Linked DNA regions of Homo sapiens. The protein of the gene in region 3 interacts with the protein of the main gene of each other region in a pairwise test. Each region holds a gene or a part of one and is shown on either strand. Other genes may lie near its edges.

What was found.
Region 1: the proteins of BMAL1 (region 3) and CRY1 interact in a two-hybrid assay, tested with the Homo sapiens proteins (3 studies listed by BioGRID, with this or other methods).
Region 2: the proteins of BMAL1 (region 3) and TRAPPC12 interact in binary tests that used the Homo sapiens proteins (3 or more experiments, as listed by UniProt).
Region 4: the proteins of BMAL1 (region 3) and NPAS2 interact in binary tests that used the Homo sapiens proteins (3 or more experiments, as listed by UniProt).

Annotation. Positions count from the first base shown.
Region 1 is NC_000012.12:106,999,518-107,006,862, reverse strand, and holds part of CRY1 (cryptochrome-1), read left to right. Parts: intron 1-1,614; coding exon 1,615-1,757; intron 1,758-4,914; coding exon 4,915-5,099; intron 5,100-5,494; coding exon 5,495-5,583; intron 5,584-6,780; coding exon 6,781-6,921; intron 6,922-7,000; coding exon 7,001-7,312; intron 7,313-7,345.
Region 2 is NC_000002.12:3,473,417-3,480,133, forward strand, and holds the end of TRAPPC12 (trafficking protein particle complex subunit 12), read left to right. Parts: intron 1-4,278; coding exon 4,279-4,379; intron 4,380-5,176; exon of another isoform or gene 5,177-5,429; coding exon 5,430-5,517; exon of another isoform or gene 5,518-5,802; coding exon 5,803-6,045; 3' UTR 6,046-6,149; downstream 6,150-6,717. UniProt on the Homo sapiens protein: Component of the TRAPP complex, which is involved in endoplasmic reticulum to Golgi apparatus trafficking at a very early stage.
Region 3 is NC_000011.10:13,371,540-13,378,884, forward strand, and holds part of BMAL1 (basic helix-loop-helix ARNT-like protein 1), read left to right. Parts: intron 1-623; coding exon 624-870; intron 871-2,555; coding exon 2,556-2,662; intron 2,663-4,072; coding exon 4,073-4,223; intron 4,224-5,005; coding exon of another isoform or gene 5,006-5,100; coding exon 5,101-5,189; intron 5,190-6,782; coding exon of another isoform or gene 6,783-6,797; coding exon 6,798-6,906; intron 6,907-7,345. UniProt on the Homo sapiens protein: Transcriptional activator which forms a core component of the circadian clock.
Region 4 is NC_000002.12:100,815,324-100,823,138, forward strand, and holds the start of NPAS2 (neuronal PAS domain-containing protein 2), read left to right. Parts: upstream 1-4,815; 5' UTR 4,816-5,091; intron 5,092-5,831; exon of another isoform or gene 5,832-5,876; intron 5,877-7,815. UniProt on the Homo sapiens protein: Transcriptional activator which forms a core component of the circadian clock.

The DNA.
Region 1 (7,345 bases), on a different chromosome or scaffold from region 3:
CTGGCCAAAATGGCAAAATGCCTTCTCTACTGAAAATACAAAAATTAGCTAGTTGTGGTGGTATGTGCCTTTAATCCCAGCTACTCGGGAGGCTGAGGCAGGAGAATCGCTTGAACCTGGGAGGTGGAGGTTGCAGTGAGCCAAGATCATGCCACTGCACTTCAGCCACTGCACTTCAGCCTGGGTGACAAAGTGAGATGTCATCTAAAAAAAAAAAAAAAAAAGATTACTAATACATATTATTGGCAAGTGTGTGGAGATCAAGCCTTAGGTGCACTGCTGATGGGAATATAAATTTGTACAGTCTTTCTGGTACATAATTTGACAGCCTATCAGAATTTTGAATGTGCTTATCTTTGATCCATCAGTTGTTTTTCAAGGGATTATTTCTAGGAAAAAATTGGATAAATACCCTATAATTTGTAAGATGTGTGCATAAAGGTAAAGATATATACTGTAAAGTTTATAATAGCAATTTTTTTTTTTTGAGATGGAGCCTCGCTCCTGTCGCTCAGTCTGGAGTGCAGTGGCACACTGCAACCTCCACCTCCCGGGTTCAAGTGATTCTACTTCCTCAGCCTCCCGAGTAGCTGGAATTACAAGCATGTGCCACCATACCCAGCTAATGATTTTATTTTTAGTAGAGACGGGGTTTCACCATGCTGGCCAGGCTGGTCTTGAACTCCTGACCTCAGGTGATCCACCCACCCCAGCCTCCCAGAGTGCTAGGATTACAGGCATGAGCCACCGCACGCCGCCTAGAATAGCAATTTTTTTAAACCCACCATTGGAATAGCCCTTGTCTAATCTGGAGGTGTTTGGTGAATTATAGTATGTTACCATATAGGCAGTTAAATAATGGTAGAATTTTTTCTTTATGAGATAAATCAGAATAGACTTAGAATAAAAAAAAAACTTTCTCCTTAAGAAAAATCAATTCCTTTAAGTCACAGTTTCCTCATTTAAAATCAGTATAAGGAGATGTACAGAACTTATTAACATAGCTCCTGATAATAAGTAACTGCTATTATTATTACCATCTCCAAATTTTTCAGTTAACGTTTTTTAGTAATCAGAAAGAAAATATTTACATACACACACACACACGACCTCAGCCAGGCAGCTTATACCATATCAATATCAAAGGTTAGTTAAAGACCAGTTCTTAGACTCAACAGACATAAATTCAGGTGGTCTGGCTTTCTGTGAACTCTGGCAGGTCCCTAAGTTTTAAAAATAAACTTATCTCCAAAATGGAAATACTAACCAAAGTGCCAAACTCTGAGTGTTGTTTTGAGGCTCAAATGAAATAATGTAAGTATGAGTAATTTGAAAAAGTAAAGTGCTCTACAAACACATTTAGTATAAGAGCTGGTTTTAAGCATATTGCTTTGCTAGATTGTTGCCTAGCATAATGCCTAGAATCTAATGGGTTATGCATTCATTACTTATGTATTTTTTAATTGATAAATTGTTTACTTTTTCCTGCATATTCAAAGTTTGATTTATGTATAATCCTTTGATATGTAGATTTTCAGCTTTTTCACTTTTCGTTATAATAGAAAAAATAACTATTACAATTGGTGTACATTGTTCCCCTTTCTCTTACTTTAGGAATGGAACATTACTAAACTTTCAATTGAGTATGATTCTGAGCCCTTTGGAAAGGAACGAGACGCAGCTATTAAGAAACTGGCAACTGAAGCTGGAGTAGAAGTCATTGTAAGAATTTCACATACATTATATGACCTAGACAAGTGAGTCCTTTTTTTTTTTTTACTGTGGGAAAATGCGTATAACATAATATTTACCATCTTAACCATTTTTAAGTATATAGTTCGGTGGTATTAACTACATAGATAAGTTTTTAACTGAGGTTTATAAAGTAGAAATAACATGTACTTCACAGAGTTATGGGAGAATTAAGTGAACATATGTCAAATCCTTAGCATTTTATTTAGCTGCTATTGACCCAATGACAGGTATCAGCATTTCAGTTTCAAAACTATTATGGATTAAGACTATTACAGAATTTTCCTTGACTACTCTTAACTCAGCCTCCTGTGGTCTTGCCTTTCTGGGCTCTTAGCATTATCAATTTTATAGTTATATATAGTTATAAATTGCCTTGACATATTTTGTATGCTTGTTTAATGTTATCTTATTTCATGTATATCTATTATGTCTGTCTGGATTTTAAATCCAGATGCAAATTGGATGTAATATAACATTGCATAGCTGTAGTCCTCTGAACAATGGCATAATAGAATATTTCCCAAAGTGTATTTCTTCCAGCACCAGTCCTTGGTGATGCTTTGTCCCACAGAAATTCTGTGGTCAAACTTAAATTTAGGGAGTGTTATATGCTATGAGTCTTAGAGGTCTGTAAAACTTAACTTTTTAAAACTTTTGGCATACCATTGTCCTTTTAAGTACTGAAATCTTATAATTTATTTACCTTTTAAATCATTTTACTTTTTTAGTAATTTATGTATTTTATCAAGTTAGTAAAACAAATTCTGTAACATGACAAACTAGTTGATTTGATTTCACATTTTAAATGTATCAAAAAATCATGATTTGATTCAGACAAAGGTCTTGATACTAAGCTAGAATTCATATATCTTTTAATAATAATCTTGCCTTCGAGCTCACCAATTTGCTTAACTTTAAGGAGCTCATAGCAAGGAGGGGGCAACACAGGATAAAAGCAGTTGCTTCTAAGTGGGAGACTCAGTGTTATGCATAAAATTGTTTAGGCTAGGCGCGATGGCTCACACCTGTAATCCCAGCACTTTGGGAGGCCGAGGCAGATGGATCACGAGGTCAGGAGTTCAAGACCAGCCTGGCCAAAATGGTGAAACCCTCATCTCTACTAAAAATACAAAAATTAGCCAGGCATAGTGGCGGGTGCCTGTAATCCAGCTACTTGGGAGGCTGAGGGAGGAGAATCACTTGAACCCGGGAGGCAGACGTTGCAGTGAGCCAAGATAGCACCACTGCATTCCAGCCTGGGCAATAGAGCAAGACTCTGTCTCAAAAAAAAAAAAAAAAATCAAGTGTTTATTGGATTGAATGTGAATATTTACTATATGTAATCTATCATATTAAAATGTAACATATAGAAAATGTTTTGTCCTAAGATTCTCATTTTGCTACTGTTGTGTAATTAACAATGTCCTCAGTAGTATTATTGTAGCATCATTACATTCAGCAAAATTCATTGCAACCCTATGAATAAATTCAAAATACACCAAAACAAAATTTACTTAAACAGGATATCTTTTATGGTGATTGCTTTCTGTATTACTTTCTGTATGTATCTGTAGTTGATACATCACTACGTATTGTATAATGAAAAATACACTAAAATACACTAAGAAAACCTTGATTTGCCGTTTATCAGTTATATGACCTTGACTAGTTTACTTAACTCTCCTGGTAGGCCTGTTTTCACATCTATAAAATGATGGAGTTGGATTTCACCTGTCATTTTTTATTAAGGCCAAATGCTAAGCAAATGGCCATAGTGAAAAAGAGTAGTTATTCCAAAAGAGTGTCTAAACTTAATCTTTAACTACCATTGGCAAAGCTAGTTATTTTTTTAATTAATAATTGATTGAGTTAATTAATGATCAGAAGTAAAAAGATACTTAAATTTAAATAACTTGAAATTTGGGGGCTTATGTGTTCTAAGTATGTGACATAGATACATATGCTGACATCTCTCATGCCTTCATTAGCACAATAGAAAATAGGAAGTAATTGTCACCACAGTAATATAGAATCAAAATTTATAAAATTTGCTGAAGGAAATAGGGTAATTGTTTTAGTCTGTTTTCACGATGCTGATAAAGACATACCCGAGACTGGGCAATTTACAAAAGAAAGATTTAATGGACTTACAATTCCACACGGCTCAGAAGGCCTCACAATCATGGTGGAAGGCAAGGAGGAGCAAGTCATGTCTTACATGGATGACAGCAGGCAAGGAGGGATCTTGTGCAGGGTAACTCCCCCTTTTAAAAACCATCAGATCTTGTGAGACTTACTCACTATCATGAGAACAGCACGGGAAAGACCTGCCCCCATGATTCAGTTACCTCCCACAGGGTCCCTCCCATGATGTGGGAATTGTGGGAGTTACAACTCAAGATGAGATTTTGGTGGGGGCACAGCCAAACCATATCAGGAATGTAGGTCCAAGGATACAAAGTAGAAGTTATGTAAGATGAACAACACTAGAGGTCTAGTGTACAGAGTAAGGATTTTAGTTAATAAAATTGTATTTTATTTGGAATTTTAATCAAATAAGTAGATTTTAGCTGCTTTTGTCACACACATACAAAAAAGTAACTGAGATTATAAATATGTTAATCTGCTTCACTATAGTAACCATTTTACTATCTACATGTATCCCATAATGTGTTGTAAACTCAAATATATACAATAAAATTTATTTTTCCTAAATGAGACCTGCTGATTACTCTTTCATATAATTATCAACCTGGTTTAGTTTTTATTGATGATTGAGATTCTTTGAGCTGGGCCATAACATGTTTTTCATATGTCTGTGTGTATTAACTTTTTGTAATTGCCTTTAGACTAATTTCCCCTCTTACTTGTTTTTTCCTCTCATAAGTTTTTAATATTCTTTGTCTTAAAGGTTTAATATTTGTGTAGTATATTTGTGTAGTATATTTGATACCCAGAGGATGTCTAGAAGCTCAGGAGAATGATTTTTGGACTCATTAATCATTTTGGACACATTTCTTGGTCATTATAACAAGCTAACACCCTCAAAGACTTCAGTGATTAATTTTATTTTCTGCTTTTTAAGCCTTTTGGGAGCTTATTAGCCAAAATGTATTGTCTTTTTTAATACTAACTACATTTTACTAACTCTTGTTATAGGATCATAGAACTCAATGGTGGACAACCGCCTCTAACTTATAAAAGATTCCAGACTCTCATCAGCAAAATGGAACCACTAGAGATACCAGTAGAGACAATTACTTCAGAAGTGATAGAAAAGTGCACAACTCCTCTGTCTGATGACCATGATGAGAAATATGGAGTCCCTTCACTGGAAGAGCTAGGTGAGTGTAAACTGTAGTCAGTGTGAGGCTTGCAAGTTAATAAATCATAAATTACTCAGAAAATTCCCCTTTTAATTTTGCCATGTAAAGTATTTTGCATTAGGAGAGAAAGAAAGGGCAGGGGGAGAAGAAAAAGAACCCTTTAAGAAGTGATATGTTTGTTCATCATTTATGTGTTTTATAAATATGTGATCTATTGTTACCACCTTAAGATGTACATCCTGAAAAATTGAAACCATGTCATATCCTCTATAGGTGAGGGCTTATTTAGGCCTTCAGTTCATTTTTATGGTACTCTCTTAATTTTTCTGCAAAGTAATTTGTTCTCCCAGTTATTGGGGTTAAATAAAAATTAGTTTCGGAAGAATGATGTTTTTTTCTTTTCTTTCTTGTAGGTTTTGATACAGATGGCTTATCCTCTGCAGTGTGGCCAGGTGGAGAAACTGAAGCACTTACTCGTTTGGAAAGGCATTTGGAAAGAAAAGTATGATAATGTAGATTATATAGCTATGCTTGTATTTCCAAACTGCCATTTAAAAAATAATTTTTCTCTCTTTTAAAAATAACAAATAGATTGTTGAAAGGGGAGGATTAACAGAAATGGTTAAAATAGCACAAACCTAATTGTTTGAAAGTTAACTACCATCTCCTCATTTAAATGCTCTTTCTCCTTCTCTTCTAATTATTTCCCCTTTAGCTACTACCGCACTACCTCTTCTGTTCTTTCTACCTAAGCTAGTATCTAGTGGCCACAATTTCGAAACTAGAATAGAATTATATTTCACCTTTACCTTTGTGTTAAAGAGAGGTTGAAAGCCAGGCATGGTGGCTTACGCCTGTAATCCCAGCACTTTGGGAGGCTGACGCAGGTGGATCACTTGAGGTCAGGAGTTCAAGACCAGCCTGGCCAACATGGCAAAACCCCCATCTTTACTAAAAATACAAAAGTTAGCCAGGGTGGTGGTGTGTGCCTTTAATTCCAGCTACTTGGGATGCTGAGGCATGAGAATTGTTTGAACCCAGGAGGCAGAAGTCGCAGTAAGCCAAGATCGTACCACTGTACTCCAGCCTGGGTGATGGAGTGAGACTCCATCTCAAAATAAATAAATAAATTTTCCAGGCCTGGTGGCTCATACCTGTAATCCCAACACTTTGGGAGGCTGAGGTGGGCAGATCATTTGGGGTCAGGAGTTTGAGACCAGCCTGGCCAACATGGTGAAATCCCATCCCTACTAAAAATACAAAAATTAGCCGGGCGTGGTGGCGCATGCCTGTAGTCGCAGCTACTCAGGAGGCTGAGGCAAGAGAATCCTCCACCCGGGAGCTGGAGGTTGCAGTGAGCCGAGATTGAGCCACTGCACTCCAGCCTGGGTGACAGAGCGAGACCCTGTCTCAGGAAAAAAAAAAAAGAGAGAGAGATTGAAGGTGCTCTCAGCTTTCTGTTGGAAATTTGAAGGAAATTTATTTCACATGAGTATGTGCTGCACAAGGACGACTGAAACAAAAGAATGCTCACTTTTTTATCCTGTCTTATTTTTTATTAAAACATGTAATTTGTGGCTAGGATAAGATTTTATTCCCCAAGAACTATGTAACTTTAAAAAAAAAAATCTCCATTCTGAGTGTTCTTTTAAAATGAAAAAGACAATTAGTTAATATAATTTTCTCTGTGTGTTTTCAGGCTTGGGTGGCAAATTTTGAAAGACCTCGAATGAATGCGAATTCTCTGCTTGCAAGCCCTACTGGACTTAGTCCTTATCTCCGATTTGGTTGTTTGTCATGTCGACTGTTTTACTTCAAACTAACAGATCTCTACAAAAAGGTATTCTCTAAAATTAGAGCTTATTGTTTAATACTTTAAAAAAAAATTCTGATAATACTTCTTTGCTTTTTAACCATAGGTAAAGAAGAACAGTTCCCCTCCCCTTTCCCTTTATGGGCAACTGTTATGGCGTGAATTTTTCTATACAGCAGCAACAAATAATCCACGCTTTGATAAAATGGAAGGAAACCCTATCTGTGTTCAGATTCCTTGGGATAAAAATCCTGAGGCTTTAGCCAAATGGGCGGAAGGCCGGACAGGCTTTCCATGGATTGATGCCATCATGACACAGCTTCGTCAGGAGGGTTGGATTCATCATCTAGCCAGGCATGCAGTTGCTTGCTTCCTGACACGAGGGGACCTGTGGATTAGTTGGGAAGAAGGAATGAAGGTAAGTGTTCTAACTGATATAGCATGCCTTATT
Region 2 (6,717 bases), on a different chromosome or scaffold from region 3:
TATAACATAAAAATTTAGACTAAAGTTTTCCGTGTTGGTTTTTGGGTAGGGTTTTTCTGGTGGGTTTTTTTGTCTGTTTTTGAGACGAGGCCTCGCTCTGTCACCCACACTGGAGTGCAGAGGCGCAAATGCAGCTCACTGCAGCCTTGACCTCCTGGGCTCAAGCAATCCTCCCGCCTCAGCCTCCCGAGTAGCTGGGAACAGGAATGCACCACCATGCCCAGCTAAGTTTTTTGTAGAGAGGGGGTCTTGCCATGTTGCCCAGGCTGGTCTCAAACTCCTGGCCTCAAGCAATCCTCCTGCCTCTGCCTCCCAAAGTGCTGGGATTACAGGCATGAGCCACTGGGCCCAGCTGAAATGAGTTTTCTGTATCAATTGCAGACCTATGCTTCTGTGACTAAAGTTGATCAGTGGTAAATATGAAAAGAACTGGGTTTTCTAGCTGACTACAGATTTAATATCATCTAGCAACCTATGTGGCTGTTAACATAGCTGTTCTGTCTTTGGATGGTTTAAAATCATCTGACTCCCACACCACAGAGAAGAATCATTCTTGCCTTCCTCTCCAGTCAACAGCTCACAGCCATGGACTGCAGGACACTCCGCCTTGAGAACACTTTAAAATGGCCATTGCCCATCTGTAATGGCTTCCGTGCCACCAAGGTGATGAGGAATCCCAAAACTGTGACAGAGAAGCAGGTGAAGGAGCTGAGAACTGGAGCTCTCCCCCACCCCTCAGTGCCTGTATTAGTTGGGGCTCTCTAGAGGGACAGGACTCATAGAATAGATGAATCTATGAAGGGGAGTTTATTAGGAGAATTGACTCTCGATCACAAGGTGAGGTCCCACAATAGCTGAGGAGCAAGGAAGCCAGTCCAAGTCCCAGAACCTCGGCAAGTCTGCTCTTTCCAACTTCTGCCTGCTTTATTCTGGCTGTGATGGCAGCTGAAGAGATGGTGCCTACCCAGATTAAGGGCGGGTCGGCCTCCCCCAGCCCACTGACTCAAGTGTTCATCTCCTTTGGCAACACCCTCACAGACACACCCAGGATCAATACTTTGCATCCTTCAATTAAATTGACACTCAGTATTAACCTTGACAGCGCCCAAGGAGGGGAGGGCCAGACCCAGCGCACAGTTCCAGTTTCTGCCACGGAAACACTGACCATGTGTTGCTCTTAAGGTCGGAGCTCCAGGGCGGCGTTTCCCCGGGTTTCTGCGTTTATAAGTGATGTTAGTATCTGGTTTGCGTGTGCACAGGTGACATCTCAAAAGGATATGGTGGCTGTTTTCTGTCTTCATATAAGTTAGAAGCTTGCTTTCTCTCTCTCTGGAAAACTTGAGTAATGTGGAATGATCTATTCCCTGAAGGTTTGAGTATTCACCTAAGAATTGCCTTTGCTGAGCACATGAGGTGTGCTGTGTGCTTTTCCTAATTTATTATTATGAATCTGCCTTAGTGTTGTGTGCCTGAGGATTTTTCTGTGTTTCTGGGAACCATTTTGGTAACTGAGAGTTTTCTAGAAAGCCACCTGTTTGGTCCCTGTTTTCTCGTGGATTCGCACAGAGTAAAAGACAGTGCTCTTACCATTATTTCCATTTCCTTGTTCTGCCTGTAGCTATTTCTACTTTTACATTTCTGTTTATGCTTCCTTTTTCTGGATTAGTTTATACACTGTTTTTTGTCTTTTTCTTTGTGAGACAGGATCTTGCTCTGTCTGCCAGGCTGGAGTGCAGTGGCACAGGTATGATTCACTGCAGAACTCCTGGGCTCAAGAGATTCACCTGCCTTAGCCTCTCATGTAGCTGGGGACCACAGTGCTTACGGCCACACCTGGTGCTTACAGCCACACCTGGCTAATTTTCTTTTCTTTTTTAATGGAGACAAGGTCTCACTTTGTTGCCCGGTCTGGTCTTGAACTCCTGAAATTCAGCGATCCTCCCACCTCGGCCTCCCAAAGGGCTGAGATTACAGGTGTGAGCCACCATGCCCAGCCACTGTATTTCCTTTTTAATAGTGTCTTTTACTGATTTGTTTTCTACATATTCTGGAATACTTTTAATTGCATTTTTATGTTTAATTTTTTCAGTTGCTCCTAACTTTTAGAAATCGGTAGGATTTTGTATCCTAATTACATTTTAATAATTCTGAAAATGTCAAGTTACTTTCTAATCATCAGGAAAGTCAGTGGGTAGCAAAGAATATCCCAAGATTTCTCTGTTATCTTCCTCTGAGACATTGAGTAAAGTCCCATGCCAGCCTCAGGAGGCCTTGCAGTGCGGAGGATCAGCACACGGTCTGGGCGTTGGACAGCCTGGGTGTTGACCACAGTGTTCTGTGTTAGCTGTGTGACCTCAGAAAATTGTCTCATCTTTCCAAGCCCGACGACTTCATCTAGAAAGCGAAGCTAGCGACAGCATCTGCATCCCAGGCTGTCGCGAGGGTCAGGCGAGCTGTGCTTGTAAGCGCTTGCCACGGCCGCCGGCACACGTTAATCTTGATCGGTCTTGATGATGGGCTGTAATCATCTTCAGTTCAGTGTCTCACACGGTCCTGTTAGACAGGAGATGCAGGCGTTCGAGCTGAGGGCCGCGTCACGGAGCCCATGCTGCCTTCGGTTTCTTTTTAGTCCGCAAGTGGGAAATCGATAGTAGTGGACTTCAAACGGCTTCGGACTGTGCAGACGACGGGCAGCGATGGACAGATGCCATTCAGTGTGTGGTGTGTGTGCACGCCTGTGTTTTCTCTTGTTTCATTCTGTTTTTTCTTCCTCCTCGTATGGTATTTCTTTTGTGGGATAACAGCAACAGTTGTGAAGGGCCTGAGATGTTATCCTGTTTCCAAGCTGTGGAGTTAGCTGCCACTTTCATGGATGCTGGCAAAAAATGTAAGATTCCTACGTTAGAGAGGAAGGCTATTTATTACACAGCAACAGCAGTACAGCCAGAGTGGCATTCTTCCCACCAGCCACGGGGCCCTGATTCCTCAGGGTCTTCACCGAGGGCCTCATGAGGCCTGCAGTGGGCTGTGTGGCTGGAGAGGAATCCTGAACTTAGAACACCCAAATCCTTGCTACTGGGAGGCGAGCCTGCCTGCCCTTTGCCCCAGAGGGATGCAGTTTAGCTTACAAGGCTGTCCTCTAAACAGGCATCCTTGTGTAAATGCTTTGAACAAAGCCTTGTCACTGTCTGTGCTTGGAAGACATGCAGAAACATGACACCCATGGAGAACCATCTCCCCACCAGTCATCTGAGAAGTTAGCAGGCTTGTTTTAATGCTGGACAGATGCTTGGCGTGGACAGTCTAAGAGTTAACTAGGCTGCTCAGTATGATAGTGATGGGTGCCCCAGCCCTCCTCATGGAGGTGAGCCGCGCGCATTCAGCTTGTTTCTCATCGAGACAGAGGACAGCATTCTGTTAAGTTTCTGCTGCTGCCATGATAACAGAGCTCGCTGTCACATTCTGGCTCCCGCAGGCTGTGCCCCGGACACAAAGCAACTCTGTCTTTACCCTCGTGAGCGCGGCTTGGGCCATAATAGGACTTTTCTTTCATTTGTATCTATTTCTTATTGTAAGCCTTAGATCATTTATTCCCTTCCTTACACTTCTAGAGGTGAAAGAAAACCCAAGTCTGCCTTTGTAAAACCAAGCTGTGGCCTCAGGAGTCAGGGCTGGGGCACTCAGCCTTCCACCCCCCAGGCCTCCTCTGCCACAGGCCTGCTGCATCCGGCTGCATTTCAGTCGGGCAGCCGGTGGGTTTCCTGACATGCGTGATAAGAGTGGGTTTGAGTTTGGTTTGGCTTGTTTTTTACAGTTGAATTCTATATTATTTGGTCAAAATATTACTTTGCAATTTGCAAATGTGGTGGCACCTACCATTTTACTAGCCACAAGTAACTCATAAGTTGACGTAGGACCTGCTCATATTATACCAATATTTTAAGTATTTTATGTTTCATCTTATTAGTTATTCATTTTATTTTATCTAATGCTCTGCCAGAATTCATTCCAAAAGGTAAAAATTACTAAACTATAAGACTCTTAAATAAGGCGTGTATATTAGCAACTTAGTTTCTGACATATAGAACATTAACATTCCACTGTATCTTAAATGTCTTTTGCCTTTTTATTAAAAAATGATTAAATGGTTACTGAAGTTTTCCTCTGCCTGACATATAAATGTCTTCATATTCTAACATGATATTAGGGAACTAAATATATGAGTATAGACTTAATATTTCTTTTGTCAACTAAACTGACTAAATTTTGTCAAAGCAGATTGGAGACATAAAAACAGCTGAAAAGTATTTTCAAGACGTTGAGAAAGTAACACAGAAATTAGATGGACTACAGGGTAAAATCATGGTTTTGATGAACAGGTAAATATTTTAAAACTAAATATATGTTTTCTCAAATTTCCCAGAGGCGTTCAAGCCCCACTTACTGAGTTGGAAAGCTCCCTAGAGAAGGCGCTTCTCCCTGTATCTCCTCTTGCCCTGTGTCTCTCAGAGCGGAGACCCAAGGAGTATACAGGTGTTTTCTTGAATCGCAGTGATGTTCTTTTAGTCACAGAAGCTGATTTTTAAGGAGCTATTCCCCCTTGTTCTTCAGAGAAGCGCTTGTATTGCCCCCGTTTTCAGCGTATGTGTGTGTAAAGGTCACCATTGCTGGCGTAGCGGCCGTTCTGGATCCTGTGCTCTGGTGTTCTGTGTCTGGATCCCGTGCTCTGGTGTTCTGTGTCTGGATCCCGTGCTCTGGTGTTCTGTGGTAGAACGCACAGCGTCGTGCGAGTGCACGTTCGTGAGGAGGAAACACGCCTTGGACAAAGCCTGCAGCCAGGATCAGAAAGCGTAAATAAAGCAGGTGTCCGCTTTTAGCAGGAAGTCATTTAGGTGAAGTTACTCTATCTCAATTAACAAAAACTAGAGTGGCTTGGCCGGGTGCAGTGGCTCATGCCTGTAATCTCAGCACTTTGGGAAGCTGAGGCACGTAGATCACTTGAGGTCAGGAGTTTGAGGCCAGCCTGGCCAACATGGTGAAACCCCATCTCTACTAAAAATACAAAAAATTAGCCAGGCGTGGTGGCAGTCGCCTGTAATCCCAGCTACTTGGGAGGCTGAGGCAGGAGAGTTGCTTGAATCCAGGAGGCGGAGGTTGCGGTGAGCCGAGATCGTGCCACTGCACTACAGCCTGGGCAACGAGAGCAAAACTCCATCTAAAAAATAAAAATAAATAAAAACTAGAGTGGCTTTAATGTGCGAGCCTGAATGCAAAACGCAGCTCACCGCCTCTACCTGGAGATCAGGAACCCCGGGCCACACAGGGCCATACGCTGGGTCTCTGTGGGATCCAAAGCCCCTGTGGGTTGTGTTGGGGGACAGCAGCTCCTGGGCTTTCCCCGCTAACTGCCACCGTTGCTTGTGTTACAGCGCGTTCCTTCACCTCGGGCAGAATAACTTTGCAGAAGCCCACAGGTTCTTCACAGAGATCTTAAGGATGGATCCAAGAAACGCAGTGGTAAGATCCCCAAGCTGCAGGATCCTCCATCCTCTGCCTTTCACAGACGCTAGAAACATACACCCACACACGTCTCAGCAGGGGCCTGCGCTCTCTCTCTCCAGTCCACCAGCTCCAGGCAGTGGCTGTGGCCCTTAGGGGAAGTGACCCAACAGGGCCACCTAGGCTCTGCCCAGCAGCTCTGCACCACCCCCAGGCCCCTAACACGGCCCAGCACGCAGCCTGGAATGGGCGGGCGTCTGTCCTGGTTGTGTGGGCCAACCCTGGGCGTGTGCTCCTCCCTAGGCCAACAACAACGCTGCCGTGTGTCTGCTCTACCTGGGCAAGCTCAAGGACTCCCTGCGGCAGCTGGAGGCCATGGTCCAGCAGGACCCCAGGCACTACCTGCACGAGAGCGTGCTCTTCAACCTGACCACCATGTACGAGCTGGAGTCCTCACGGAGCATGCAGAAGAAACAGGCCCTGCTGGAGGCTGTCGCCGGCAAGGAGGGGGACAGCTTCAACACACAGTGCCTCAAGCTGGCCTAGCTGCCTCCAACACACTACGTCAGAAGGACCCGGGTCTTTGAAACTGTGTCTTGAAGCTAATGTATTAATGTGACATGGAGGAACTCAATAAAACTCCTGCTTCACTGGTGTCTGCTGCGTGTCTTCTTGGTCCCAAGCCACGGCCCAGCCCAGGACTTCCCCGCAGTTGGTCGGCGTTCAGCCACGCAGTCCCTGCAGCTGGGTCACTGTTCATGAATGCAAGGGGCAGGCGTGCTGGGAGGACACAGCTCGTAGACAGGAAATCTGGAGTCAGCCTCGGGGCCTCTGTTCTGGAGGCCAATCCTGCTTTGCTCGTTCCTTCTGGACATCCTCAGAGAAAAGCTGGGAGGTGTGGAGACCCTCTCGCCGTGCACCTGCACGTACAGGGAGATTTACAACAGGGAAGACACCCCCCACAGATCGCCGCTCATGCTCCTCTTGCCCTCCCCACACACCCAAAACTAAGTGCGTTGGTCTTACCCATCCGAGTCTCCTCCAGCCTGATGCCAGCCAAACGACCCCTGCCAGCCTGGCGGTGGAGGAGAGGCCATCACTGTTTCTCCCATAGTTTATACGTCCACGTGGAGAGTGAGCTGAGTGGAACAGGAAGCACGACGCATAATGAAGCACAGGAAGAGCGCGTAAAACGCAGGCAGGCAGGGGCTGGGGGTG
Region 3 (7,345 bases):
TTCCAGTTCATACGTCACTCTGCTCCTACAGCATCCAAACCACAATTTGATTTTGCTGTTTCTGCACTTAAATACCTGTAGATGCTCTCCATTTCCTGCCTTAAAAAGACAGACCAACATTGGTTAGAAAGTAATCCAAGGCCCTTTTAATCTTCCTCCAACCTGCCTTTCCAATTTGCCCCTCACTCCCAGTACCTCCAATTTCACTTCAACCACACAGAGCTCTTGGCCAGTTCCTATATAGGCTGTGCCTCTGTGCCTGTGTACGTCATCAGCCTTTATACATTCTAGTCCCTCAGCCACTGCTCATCCTTCTTGATCCACCTCCTCTACTGGTTTTTTGGGGGAGCCTTCCTCTCCCTAGGAAGAGTTAGATATTCCTTCCTTGGTGTATGTAATGAATGTCCATGGTATAACTGGCCCTACTTAAGCATTCTGACACTGGATGACAGTTTGTTTCTCTTTCCGTCTGCCCCTTTCATTAGATGCTTACTTCTGGAGAGTGAAGCCTTGATTTTTTTTTATTTTTTGACTCCCTACCTACATCCCATCCCACCATCGGCCGTGTACACCTCCATGGCCCAAACCTAGTGCTGACACTAACCACGAACTTTGCTTTCTAGCAGATCGAAAAAGCTTCTGCACAATCCACAGCACAGGCTATTTGAAAAGCTGGCCACCCACAAAGATGGGGCTGGATGAAGACAACGAACCAGACAATGAGGGGTGTAACCTCAGCTGCCTCGTCGCAATTGGACGACTGCATTCTCATGTAGTTCCACAACCAGTGAACGGGGAAATCAGGGTGAAATCTATGGAATATGTTTCTCGGCACGCGATAGATGGAAAGTTTGTTTTTGTAGACCAGAGGTAAGAGTCTACATACTACCCTTGAGCAATGATGGTAGAGGATTTTCAACCCTGATCTAAAAAGCAGAGAAGACTGGGCCATCAGCTGGCTTTTCTAAGAATGAAGAAAGAAAGAAAAAGCTGGGTGCAGTGGCTCACACCTCAAATCCCAGCACTTTTTGAGGCCAAGGTGGGTGGATCACTTGAGCCCAGGAGTTTGAGACTAGCCTGGGCAACGTGGCAAAACCCTGTCTCAACTAAAAATACAAAAATTAGCCAGGCATGGTGACACATACCTGTAGTCCCATCTACTCTGGAGGCTGAAGCAGGAGGATCAGCTGAGCCTCGGGAGGTCAAGGCTGCAGTGAGCTGTGATTGCACCACTGCACTTCCGCCTGGGCAACAGAGTGAGACCCTGTTTCAAAAAAAAAGAGACAAATGATGAGAGTCTCTGTTAAAAAATGAGATTCAATAGGATATCATCATAAATACAGAGATTTTTCTGTCATTCTTTGGCATATAGAGACAATTAAGTGGGGTGCCTTGATGTCCATGGCTAAAAGAAAAACAGTAGGGATAGCATGCTGTCTGAATCTATGGAATGTTCCAGAACCATTATTGTGATTGAAATTCTTTTGAATCTAGGACTTGGAAGCAATTATTTAGTCCTGAGCTGTCCAATAAAATACTCGTTGGCCATGGTAGCCTCCCATGTGGCTAACGGCACAGACATAGAACATTTCCATCATCACAGAAAGTCTTGTTGGACAGCGTTGATCTAATCCAACCTCCTTATTTTATGGATGAAGAACAGAGGCCAGCCTGGGGACTGGTCTCCTGTAGGATTCACAATTAATTGGTAATAGACCTGGACCAAGGACCCAGGTGTCCCAAATTTACTGCTGCCTACTGCTTTCCCTCAGAATATGCACAGGCTAATAATTTTTCTGGCTACTAGAGACAGCCACAACATGCTGGAAAAAGAGACAGCCTCAGCTGTCTTGTGGCCTCAGCTGCTGCAGCTTCTGGCATTTGGTTGTCCTGATAAAAAGGAGGCAGCAAAAACTAGAAGCCTTGCACTGAGGTTTAGATTTATACCACATTTTAATCTAATTAATGTGGTTCCTTTTTTAAAGACAGATCTCAGTCTGTCACCCAGGCTAGATCTAGTGCAGTGGCGAGATCTTGGCTTACTGTAGCCTTGACCTCCCGGGCTCAAGCAGTCCTCCCACCTCAGCCTCCCAGGTAGCTGTGACCATAGGCATGTGCCACCATACCCAGCTCATTGTTCTGTGTTTTTGGTAAAGACAGGGTTTCACCATGTTGCCCAAGCTAATCTTGAATTCCTGAGCTCAGACAATCTGCCCAACTCGGCCTCCCAAAGTGCTGGGATGACAGGCATGAACCACCATGCCCGACTGGTTGCAATTTTTAAAGCCCCCTCAGATTTGATTTCTTGTGATAATAGTCCCTTTACAAAGGCTTTGCTCTGTTTCCCTCTATTTTTATAGCCTTGATTAAATTCAGATGCCTGAAAAAAAGAGAGAAAGATCCACACAGTGAGCCCTCTGAAAATCCATCCAGCTCTTTTGCCTGCAGCTTTGACCTTGCTCTCATAGGCTGTAGCAGGGTTTATCCATTGCAAAGTTGCAATTAATCATCTGAATGGCTTTTTCTTCTTTAAATATTCCTTTATTCCCTTTTAGGGCAACAGCTATTTTGGCATATTTACCACAAGAACTTCTAGGCACATCGTGTTATGAATATTTTCACCAAGATGACATAGGACATCTTGCAGAATGTCATAGGCAAGGTAAGCTAGGATGTATGAAAGATCTTAAGTTGAAAGTGTCCCCTTGCTTCTAGACTAGTCAACATGACCTTCCAGGGAAATCTGTCCACTGAGGATGTAGAGTCAGCCAGCCTAGGACTCTTCAGGTCAGAACATCTGTGTGAAGAGGAAGCTGATACCTGCAGGCACTGTTTATCCCCCTTGTAGTTGCCCTGTGCTGACTGCATGGCAGTTTCTGAAAGACATCTCTTGTTCAGAGGGTTTTCCCAGACCCTGTAAAGATTTAGTATGGCCCAGACTGATCTGATTCTCTTTTCCATTCAAGCCTGCACTACCTCCTGTGTTTTCTGTCTTGACTAATGCTGTGGCTTCATGTGCAGGCTCCTGAGAGAGACCAACATTGACCCCTTCTTTCACTGTGTCTCCACCAGATCCTGTTCATTCACCTCAGACATGCATTTCCAAAAGTCTACTTTTTACCACCTCTGCCATCACCCTGGTTCAGGCCCTCGTGCCTACTTAGAGACCTGTGATAGACTTCTCAGGGTTTCTCTGATCCCTCTCACCCCCAGTTCATCTTCCATAGTTATCCTATTTATCCCCAGATAGATTGAGCCTGGTAACATCAGCCTGCTTAAAAACCTCCTGCTTTAGACTCAAGCCCAAATGCTTTTGACAGGCAATCAAATGTGAGACCTTCCACCTTCTGGCCCCAGCCCACCTCCTCAGTTTCAGTCCCCATCCCTGCCTGCAGAGGCCTGTGCTCCAGGCACACTGACCTCACTGGCCTCTCCCCAACCAGACCCTGCTGCTCCTCAGGCACTGCTGGGTTCTTCCCTCCCTCCTTCTCTTGGCAAACTCGTGTTCATCCCTCAAGGCTCTGATCTCTTCTCCCTGTATAGCCTTCCCTCACTACTCTTCTTGAGGGCAGGAGTCATAGCCTGTCTCCTCTTGTATCTCCAGTGCCTGGCACATGAGAAGGGCTCATTACATGTTACATGAAAGAATGAGGTTGAATAGGTGAGTAGCCTCTGTTGATTTGGATGTTCTTAGAAATGAGATAAGTTCTATATTGCCCTTGGGCTTTGTGATTGAGATAAAGCATGACATTTTGGACAGTGCCTTCTCATTTGCTGGTGGTCATGTTAGAGCTGATTCCAGTTAGATGTATAACATGCAGTCAGTAATTCCCTAGAGCCTCAATTTTACAGACTATGGAAAATCATGACAGCTTCACAAATGAATTGAAAGGCTCTGAGTTAGACCCTCAGAAACAACCTATTTCCTGAGTGTTGACCACTGCAGTTTCCTTGGCTTACTAAAGAGCGATGTCGTTGGAGCTCAAGTACCTTTAATATTTTGTATTGGATGTCCTGTTTAATACTTTGGTCTGAGAAAACAACAATGTCCATGTTTTCTTTACATTTTCAGTTTTACAGACGAGAGAAAAAATTACAACTAATTGCTATAAATTTAAAATCAAAGATGGTTCTTTTATCACACTACGGAGTCGATGGTTCAGTTTCATGAACCCTTGGACCAAGGAAGTAGAATATATTGTCTCAACTAACACTGTTGTTTTGTAAGTACTTTTCCTATATCTGAAGCTCCCCTTGCTTCAAACAGATGCCTAGGGTTCCTCATCTGGGAAATGGGGTGCAGGCAACATCCAGTATCACATCCTTTAATGCCATCTTGCTAATACCTGTGAAGCCTCAGGACTGGCAGAAGCTAGAAAGGATTGTTAACAAAGGGACAAGCTTCAGGACTTGTACCATGCAGGCCCTGGCTTATGAAACTGCTCCAGGAAATAGCAACATTTCCTTCCAGATAAAGCAGCTAACCTTTGAATTCCACAGGCCCTGCACCCTAGGCATCCACTTGTGCTGCTGTGGAGGAAGGGGTTGGCAATCTATGAAAGGCTCATTCAGGCACTAGCTCACACTGGCCTTGGCTGAGGATGGGGAGGTCTCCATACCTGTCAGGCAGGGGGCCCAAGCACTGGCAGCTGGAATGCCATCTCAAAAGGCTGCTACCTGCTAGATGAGCAGAGGGAGGTGAAGGAGCCTCTCTTTGGCCAGGCCTGCTCCCCACTTTTCCTTCCCCATAGTGTCCAAAACCCCACCTATGGTAAGAGCTGTGTGAGGGGCCGGGGCTAGGTGCACTGCAGGCTGGCAGGAGGAGGTGCTGTAATGATGGCAGTAGGTTACTGCAGCCACCACCTCTGCTGAACTGTGTCCCACACATATTAGGAAGGCCTAGGCAGGCAGTGGGGCCAAAGGCCAGGATGCTATCCATTATATTATCAAACAGTGAGACCTGTTTACCCACTCAGACAGACACTTCATTTTCTGGCCTGTCCAGGTCCAGAGTGGACACCGGACACCTTGGCCAAGTTGAATGGTGCACAGTTCTGAGCAGGCCTGACTCACGTTTCCTTATTGCTGGGATGTTCACAGAGCCAACGTCCTGGAAGGCGGGGACCCAACCTTCCCACAGCTCACAGCATCCCCCCACAGCATGGACAGCATGCTGCCCTCTGGAGAAGGTAACTATGTGCTGCTGGGGCCCTGGGGCTTGCCCGTGGGAAGGTGCTTGTGGTCAAATATCCTCCCCTAAAGTATTCAGGGTCCCCTCCATTCATATTCTGTGGAACAAGGGAGGCCTCGAGGGGATGATGTGCGGATTTCCCCATGAATGCAGAGGACACTGTCATGTCACTTTCTCTGTTGAGCCGGAATACTAGGAGCTCACTGCTGCACTTCCCAAAGCTGCTGGCCCCTGGAAGCCCTTGAGCTCGCAAACTCCCTACTCCCCTTGTGCTTTCCTCCTGTGTTGGCTAGTGGCCATGATGTGAAGTGCTCTTTCGTGACTGTCACTAACTCCTGTGGTTGGCAGGCAGGTGTCTTTCGGCACCAGGGTGTGTACCATACCCACTGGGCTCCCTTCTCAGGCTCAGCCTTGGCCCTGCCCCTGCTGTCCACGCTGGACTCATCCTTCCTGGGACCATCCCCACATGCATGGCTGCAGCCCCCATCGATGACTCCCACATCCACATCTCCTGGCCCAGTCTCTCTCCCGAGCTCCAGATCTGTCTCTCCAAATGCCTCATAGACAGAACCACCTGGAGTCTCAGAGGCACCTGAAATTCAGAATATCCCAAGCTGATTTTCTGCACTCCCCTACCTGATTGGTTGTTTAAGCCAGAAACCTGGCTGTTGTCTCTCCCCCATTATATCTAAACACGGAGTCCTGAACCTTCTATCTCTTAAACTTCGTCACCACTATTGCTATTTCACCCTCCTCATCTGCTGCCTGGATTATTGCAAATCACTTCGCAACTCTAGTCCCCCTCTCCCCACCCCATCCTCCATTGTAGTTCATTCTCCCTGCCGTGGACTTTCTAATAACCCAGTTCTCATTTGTGCCTTTTCTGTGTATCGTCCTTTGGTACTCCTCATTCCCTTGTGGAAACTGTCCAAATTCGTTAGTACGGCATCCAAGAGGCCCCTCATGATCGGATTGGTACCTGCTGCCCCAGTTTCATCTATCATGCTCTCATCATCATTTATGATGAATTCCTTGGAGGAGTCTCCCAAGTTTTAACCTGCCTCAGTGCTCCTGCACGTGTTGGTTGCTGTGCCTGGAATGCTTTCTCCTCCTTACCTCTCTGCCAAGCTAATTCATATTCATCTCTCAAGACTCAGCTCGGGGTTAACTTGCTCCAGAAGCTGCACCTGGCCCCAGATGAGTTGGTTGCCTCGTGCTTGCCTGTCAAACTTACAACATTTTGCTTTAGCCATTGTTCATCTTGTTGGTTTTCCTGTTAAACTGTGAGCTCCTTGAGGGCAGGGACTTGTCTCTGTAACCCTGGCACATACAGTGGTCTTCAATAAACGTTTTTTTTCAGTGCATGAAGGGAAAGAATTAGATGCTGTATGAAGGGAAAAAACTGGCCTCAGATCCTAGAAGGAAACTTGAGCCTTTCCCTGCTGGAATGCCTTTTCCTGACAAGCTGTAGCCCTAAAGTCCCTCAAGGCACAACTCTGATGTTGAACTGCAAATGGATCATGGGATAAACTGGTTTTACTTTAATACATAATAGTATTTCTTCCTCAGTTTTCCCCTTTCCTACTCTCAGATTCCTTTGTTGTAGGTGGCCCAAAGAGGACCCACCCCACTGTTCCAGGGATTCCAGGGGGAACCCGGGCTGGGGCAGGAAAAATAGGCCGAATGATTGCTGAGGAAATCATGGAAATCCACAGGCAAGTAACACCTTCTAGTTCCTCTGTTAAACCAGTGGTTCTCAACCCAGGGAAATTTTTTCCCCCAGGCAATATTTTGCAATGTCAGGAGACATTTTTGGTCTTCACAACTGGGTGGGAGGTTGCTACTTAAACATCCTGTGGATAGAGACCAGGGATGCTGCTTGTTAAACATCCTACAGTAAACAGGACAGTTCCCTCCTCCCCACCCAACAAAGAATTATCCAATCCAAAATGTTAGTAGTGCCTAGATTAAGAAATCCTGCCTTAAATAAAGAAGCTAAACCAAAATAGCCCAGCGCTAAAGAGAATTCTTGAGAAGACTTAACTTTCTTATGGCTCAAGGAGCTTCTCAGTGCGGATAGATGTACCTTTACTTTACAGGAATGCAGGAGTAGAGCTGTGAACTATCAGAGTGATCTGGACCTTAACAAAACAT
Region 4 (7,815 bases), on a different chromosome or scaffold from region 3:
CCAGATGATGGAATAGTATTCAATGCTTTTAAAAAAAAGTGCTATCAAGCCACAAAAGACATGAAGGAACCTTAAATGCATACTACTAACTGAAAGGAGCCAATTTGAAAAGGTACGCACCATATGATTCCAACTCTATGACATTCCAGAGAAGGTAAAACTATGGAGACAATAAAAAGATCAGTGGCTGCCAGTAGTTGGGGGGAGGAAGGGATGAATAGGCACAGAATAGAGGATTTTTAGGGCAGTGGAGCTATTCTGTATTATACTATTATACCTTAATGGTGGATTTGTGTCATTACACATTTGACCAAACACACCAAGAGTGAACCCTCATGTCAACTATGGACTCTAGGTGATTATGATGTGTCAATGTATACAACAAACCTAGCACTGAGGGAGGGGATGCTGATAGTGGGGGAGGCTGTACATGGGAGGGGGGGTGTATGGGACCTTTCTGTATTTCCTCTCAGTTATTTAGAGTCAAAAGCTGCTCAAAACAATAATGTCTATTTATGAAAATCCTCTTAGAAGTAGATAGGATCTAAAATCACACTTTATTGTTAGAGAAAATGTACATGAAAGAACTTCCTCAGCGGGGCTTAAGCATAAGGAAATATTATTCTCAAGTGCCGGTATTGGCAATAATCTCACCTCTTTTTCAGATTTGTGTATATGTTTGTGCTAAGGCTTTAGGGCTTTGTCACCTCCAGACTCCTCCAGCCCTGTTTTCCTCCCTGGCTCCTCCACACGGTCTTTGTAAGGAAATCTTACTTCATTCTTTAGTTTGCCAACCACATGATCTAATAGGCACAAAAACCAAGTTAAGTCTTAACCCTACCAGGCAGGCTGTACAAGGCCTTGATTGTCTCCTGGTAGCATCCTCTGGCCCAGGCGGGAGGGCGAGAGCCTGCTGCCTCCTGCGCTCTTCTATTCTATGAAGCTTATGCAGAAACAGCACATCAAGGTGCTAACCTTGATATTGTTTCTTTTTTTAATTAATTAATTAATTTTTTTTTTTTTTTGAGAGACGGAGTTTCACCATGTTGCCCAGGCTGGTCTCGAACTTCTGAGCTCAAGCAATTTGCCCACCTCAGCCTCCCAAAGTGCTGGGGATTAGACATGAGCCACTGTCACGGCCTAATCTTGATATTTGAAACACATGATAGGCGTTCCTCAGTCTTGCTTTCAAAGGTACTCTTCATAAGCCCTGGCCTCTGAGTCAGTCTCCAATTATTGGGTTCTAAAGCCTCTTCTTCACGTTTATACTGACCCAACTTCCCTTTGCCTTGGTTGCTACAATTTTCTTCTCTAGCATAATGTTATTCTATCCAATGATGCGTGGTATTGTGTTTTTTCTTTTGAGTTTTGAAGTGAAAACTGATAATCAGAGGTAAGAATCCACAAATGGGCTTCTGGACATTCACATGAAGAAAGAGGGCCTTCCCACCTTGTGATTAACTAGAAAAACTGTGCTAACATCTGGCATGGAACCCTGTTCTTATTGTCTGTTCCAAAGCTTATGCTGAAGTCATTGAATGTATACATCCAACAAGAGTCCCAAGCCCTGGGCTAGTGCTGTAATTCGTATAGCAGCCCACACATTCTTGCCCTTGTGTAATACCACGAATGAACACCCATAGTCACCCAATACATATTTTGAAAATTTAATGTGTGCATATTTAAAATGAGGATATGCCACAGATTCAACTTCTATGATGGAAAAGAATATCCAATTTGACTGTGAGAACTTTGAATTATTTCACCGATACCTCTAAAGACTGATAAAATTGACTGCAAAAATTTTTTTATCCTCCCTTCCATACATTTGGATTCTTTGAAAAATATCTGGAGTTCCTGAATACATCAAGGCAACATTCAATCAGTAAAGCCATGTTCTTTTAAAGGCCCAATGACTGGAACTCAGTGAGAATGTCCCAAAACTGGCAATGCAGTTTTGAAATGGCTCTTTTGCTCCATGCTGCACATTTTGAACAATGCATAGATGATCTATTGTAGCTTGGCTTTGTTATTTGGTTAACGAAAAATCCAAGCACCAATGTCACCTCTTCCAAGAAGCTCATCCTGAGTCCTTCCTCGGCACCCATGGGACATCTGCTTTTGGCTTGGAGGGCTTTTCTGACCCTAGCCCTATTTGGCTGGTGTTTATGCCTGCCTCAACATAGTAAACCCTTTGTGTATAGAAACTGCCTTAATGTTCCCTTGATCCCTCACAGGCCAAGCCCAGCCTGACTCATGGCAAGCCTTCAACAGATGTCAGTAAAAGGAACTCAACCGTCAAATGCATAGAATGAACATGGGGTCAACTCTCCTCCGTAGCTCTCTTCCGCATGTGGGGGAAAGGGCCTAGTCTAACTGGCTTCTGTGATGCAGAATCCACTCTGCCTTATGGTCAGATAGGATATGTGGCCTATCTTAGAGGTATCCTTCCCATCTGGGTGAGATTAACATTAGGACACGGGATGGAGTTTGGAATAAATACGACAACCACATACACGTCATCTCCAGGACTAAAAAGGCAGAAACCACATTTAGTAGGGGCATCTACTGGACAACAGAGAAAAAGAGACCACAGCAAAAACACTTTTTGTACTGCAGAATTATTTGATGAGTTACTACTACAGGACATTCCAGGTTTCCTAAAAGAAAATTTAATGATTGTTCAACAAGTTCCCAAAAGGGAGTAGGAAAAGGGAGTTGGAATCTCTTCCAAAGCAAAAAAGGAAGGGAGGTGACTTTAAATAATGCTTTAAAACCGGTTAGAAGTACACAATTTCATCCTTTAGTAATATTAGTCATGGCCACGCTCTAAAGGCGGGGTGAAACCTACTTGCCTGGAGGAAAAGGACGGGGTAGAAAAACAAAGCAAAATAAAATCCATCAAACAAAAGTTTCTTCTTTTGGAAAGGGAGGGACTTCAAAATCATGACAGGCCAAATGCCTCCTCCTCTTTCTTGAAAAGCCCTCCAAGTCAGAAGCAAGCCTGAGAATAACAGCTGCTCTTAGGATGCTCAAAGCTCCTTGCAGCTGATTATTTTTCAGGAGGAGAATTAGACACAAATAATACAAGTGGGAAATAAAGAGAATGACCTACTTTACAGGGGGGGTAAAAAGGAGCTCTGTGTGAGCGTTTTGATCTAATTGACGGTGTGGGGTTGCATGCCCAAATAAGGCGCTGCTGGTCGGATCTGCGAGGGAGAGGGCACGTCTCAAACTCGAGGGAGAGGACGAGACAGCGAGAGGAACAGCGTCCGGGGCGACCCCCAGTCCACCGCGGGGGCCTGGCGCGCTTGGGGCAAAGGCCCTAGGAGACCCCTTCTGGCCACAAAATCGAGTATGACAGAAAAGGGCCAGCGGGGGCGCTTTCCTTCCAGGGCCACTTGCCGGAATGTAAGAGGGACGGAGAGACGTCCGGAAAAGGCTGCCACGCTCGGAGCGCTGCGCCAGGCCAGGCACCTAGGCCAGGGGAGCGGAGACCTCGTGGGAGCGGGCAGGGGGACCTTTCCCCTCTCCCGGGCTTCCACCCAGGCGCCTCCCCGCTGTGAACGCCGCCGCCCAGGTGAAGGGGAAACCGGCCACGTTTCCGGACCTCGGCGGGGCACACGGTCTCCGGTTTTCACCGGCTCTGTCTTGGAGCCCCGAAGGGCATCAGACAGCAGCCCCGGCACCCGGGGATTATTCCTGTACCTCTGCCTCCCTCCGCTTGGCGTTTGCGGGAACCTTGGTAAAATCCTCCCTGTTTCTCGCGCGCGCCTCTCTCTCCAGCTTCTTTTTCTTGGATTCTCGCCTGTCTCCTCCCACAGAGGAAAAAAAAAAAAAGGTCACGTATGTTTGGAAAAATATGTAGGTCAGTGGAACATTTCCTGCACTGGTGCAAAAGGAGAGGAGGGCAGCGGAGGAGGGGAGGGAGAGGCAGAGTGGAGCTCCAAGTGCCCGCTCCTGGCCGCAGCCCCACACCCCACGTGCCCCTGCCGGGGAGGGGGGCAATTAGCCGGTTCCTTTCCATCCTTGACCCATTTTCCGGACCAGCTACGTTCGCCTTAGGACAGGCACTGGTTATTCCTCCCCAGCAGTCGCTGCTGTCCTCCGCCGACCACCGCTCGCCCGCATCTTCCCCGACCCCCGCCTCCCACCTGCCCCCGGGCCGCACCCCCGCCGCTCATTGAGAAATCGCAGTGGTCCCCGCAGAGACGCGCTTTGTGCCCTGGGTCGAGACCTGCGCGCAACCCTGCCCCTGGAGGACAGTGTGGAGGGGGTGACAGTCGCGTGCTCGTCCCCCTTCATCCCCTGCGCGGGACAGCAGGGTGGCGGCCCGCACTGCGAGGGTCTACACTAGGCGGGGGCGGCAGATTCCTTGTTCCCCCCGAGTGACAACTTTAATGGGACCTCGGCTGGCAGCCTCTAGTCCACTTGCCTCTCCTCTGGGCCGGCTCACCTGGAAGCACAACCCCCCCCTCCCCCAGCCCCGGCGCCCAACCCCGACCCTGCGCCCCAGGCCCGACCCCGCCGCGCGTCCCTGGCAGCCCAGCAGAGGCTGCGGCGGCCTGGGGACTCGCGGGTGTCTGCGCCGCCCAGGGAAGCCGGGGGTCTAGGGGGCCGGGGGTCCGTCTGCCTGCGGCGCGCGCGGGGTGCTTGTCCCAGGCTGGGTCGGGGCCAGGAGAGACCCCGCAGGCGGAGGCAGGCGAGGGGAGGAGGAGGAGGGTGGGGGTAGGAGGGGGAGGTGGAGAGGGAGGAGGGTGGAGGGAGGAGGCAGGGGAGGAGGCAGAGGCGGAGGCGGCTCTCCCCGCCGGCTCTGCGTGCGGAAGAGTTTGCCGCGCGAGCAGCCGGCCTCTCGCAGGAGCCGAGGGACCCGCGCGGCTGCGGCCCAGGAGCGGCGGCCGCGGAGCCCGGAGACCCGCAGCCGCGGCGGCGGCGGCGGCGGCGGCAGCAGCTAGAGCAGCGCCTCCCGCCGCCGCCCGGGAGGAGCTCGCCGCGCCCGCTCGCCGCCTCGTCTCCCAGCGGCGGCGGGAGGCGCGTCTCCCCGGCCCAGTCCGCGCCCGGCCCCGCGGGGCCGCTCCGGCCCGCTCCGAGGTAAGGGGCCGCGCCTAGGGGCGCGGGGGACCCAGGGTGGGTAGTACGTGCGCGCGGGGTCGCAGGACTCGGTCACCTGCTCGCCAGCGTGGAGGACGCGCGGGGGCGGAGGGGCGCTCAGGCGCGAGGCTGCGCGGCACCGGGGACCCCGGACGCGGGGGCGCGGAGAGGTGGGTTCCCCTCCACAGTCAGGCCGCTGGGGGCTTCGCGTCCTGCAGGAGGTAGCAATCGCTGGGCCGGTGGGCTCCGGGCGCGTCTCGACGCAGAAGACAGAGGACTGGGCATCCGAGCCTCGGAATTTGGGGGTCCTCGGGGTGTCCGACAGGGTGGAGAAGGATCGTGCCCCAGGGCAACAGCTTTGGGGATTGCCCGTGGTTGTCTTCGAGACCCATCGCGCTACCCTCCGAAACGTCGGGCGTCCTGGACCCCCGGAGAGTGCGGCGTGCGCGCCCTGGGCCCGCGGTCTCTCGGAGTCCCTGGGTCGGAATTGGTTCCGGGCCGGATTGGGTGCGGAATCGGTGCCCCCAACCCCCGTGTGCGCAGACAGCGTGCAGCCTGGCTCCTCACGTCGCTGCCGCCCCCCCACCCCAACTCCGGAGCTCCCCAGGTTGGATGTATGCGTATGGTTTTGTTGGGAGATGTGCCCCTTTCCCAGCCGAGGAGGGACGCACCTTTGACCTTTCTGAAGAGCTGGGCAGGTCGGTAACCAGGGAAGGGACAGGCACCACCCGGCTAAATTCAGAACCAGTCCCGCTCCTCTGCTTGCCACTCCTTAATTGCTCAAGGTAAGAAAGTTTGTTTCAGCCCTGTGATTCATAAATAATTAGTAACTAGTTTTGTTGATTAAGCAAGATGGAAACCTTGAATATACGCACGCACTTCCACAAAGTCTAAACACTCCCGAGCTTGTGTCCGGGAGGCTTTAGTACGGAAAGTTAGAAGCCCTGGAGTTCAACAGGTGTTCAGGAGGGTCCCGGAGAGGAGTTTCGTCTTTACGCGTTGCTTTGGCATCCACCCCAACTTCATTAAAGTGGTTAGCCTGTTTTCCTACAGGTAAAACATTGATCACTTATTAAATTAACTTAATCAGCAGAGACGAGCTAAACCGTCTTGATCATTTAGAACCCAAACCTTATTTTCCTTAATAGAAAGGTTTTTCCTGTTTGAACTTCCCAGGTAATTAGTTCTAAAGTAGTTCCCAGCAAGACATCTCTGCCAGCATCTCTCTCTCACTGTAGCTTGGTCCCCATCAGTGAATTGACCAACTAATTATGGCTTGCATTAAACACAGAGCTGCCCTCCTTGGGAGGCACTGTTCACATTCAAGCGCACACACTAGCTCCATCTTCCTGCCACTAAGATGTCCTTAAAGGAAAAAGTTAGCCAAAAATAACCCCCAAATAAATAGTGTAATGTTTAAAAGAGTTATCCTGACCTGCGCCACTATTTTATAAAAGCAAAAATTCAGTGTTTCATTACAGCGCTAAACCAGGACCAGTAGAAGTATTGGTATCTCTCAGCAGTCTACTTAAATATTTAGTTAAAAATAAAGTGTGCAAAGTAAAGACGTTCAGTAATTATCTTCCATCTCACAGAGAGATGTGGAGTATGGCTTAGAAGAATTGTAAATGCGCTGCTTTTAGCCGTTTTCTTCTTGGAAATCGATGCCTCTATTTATTTGCTGATCTGTCCCACTGTGCGTAAATGTAGAATCGGTTTTATTCTCACTGCTTCCCAGAGGGGCTCCTGTGGAGGTGAAAGAAGGAAATACGTTCTAGAGGAAATATGTTATTAATAAAACGTTACCCCCAAAGAGTTAACCACGCCAAAAATAACCAAGTGAGGCTTTACTAATTAGTGGTCTGATGAGAGAGTGTTCAGATGATGACTAAAGAATTGATCTTTATGTAGAAAACAACAATTGTTTTTAAGCTCATTTGGTTCTCTTAAAACAGTTTGGGCCCTTTAAAAAAATTTCTGGCTGTTTAATAATGCAAATGATGAAAATCGTTAAAGATAACACATATAACCTGATGTGTGCCATGTTTAAGTTGAATTCACCCTATTTTTTTGAACAATCTTTCTTAACTCTTGGTAATCTTTATAGCTCACTCAACACTGCAACTTATTAGATTAAAAACTGAAAGTTAATTTTTTCAGAATAAAATAATAAGGCATGCGTATACTTTTTAATTTAACCATCTTTATATGTTCATTTTTTCAGAGTCTTGCTTTTGAATCTTAAGAACCCAAAGGGCTAAGTCTTCTTTCTTAATTTTTAAAACAAGCATGTGTTTTGTTCTTTACATGAATCGTCGGTTCTCCCAGTGTGATCACGACACTGTCCCATGCTGATTCCATGCACGGTGCAACTCTTTCCCAAGAGAGGTCAGATTTCGAGGTGTTGAAAATAGCCCAGTGACTCAGTATTCTTGGCTGCTTTATGCCAACGGTTTAATTGGCTGCATCATAGCAAGCATCTAATTGAGTTTCACATTTAAATAGTGGATAGGGTACTTGGTGCATTATTTGCTTACAGAAGTGTCTGATTAGCATGTTCCTGATCCTCGTTCTATTTGTAGCAAAGATGGGAGGTCAGGGACTGTCACATTTCATATTCCCCACAGCATCTCATCTCGATGGGGCCTTGTTCAGAATAGATGCTCAGTAAATAGGTGTGGGAAATGAGCTGAATTGTTGGTGGTCACTATCCAAAGGTGAGAA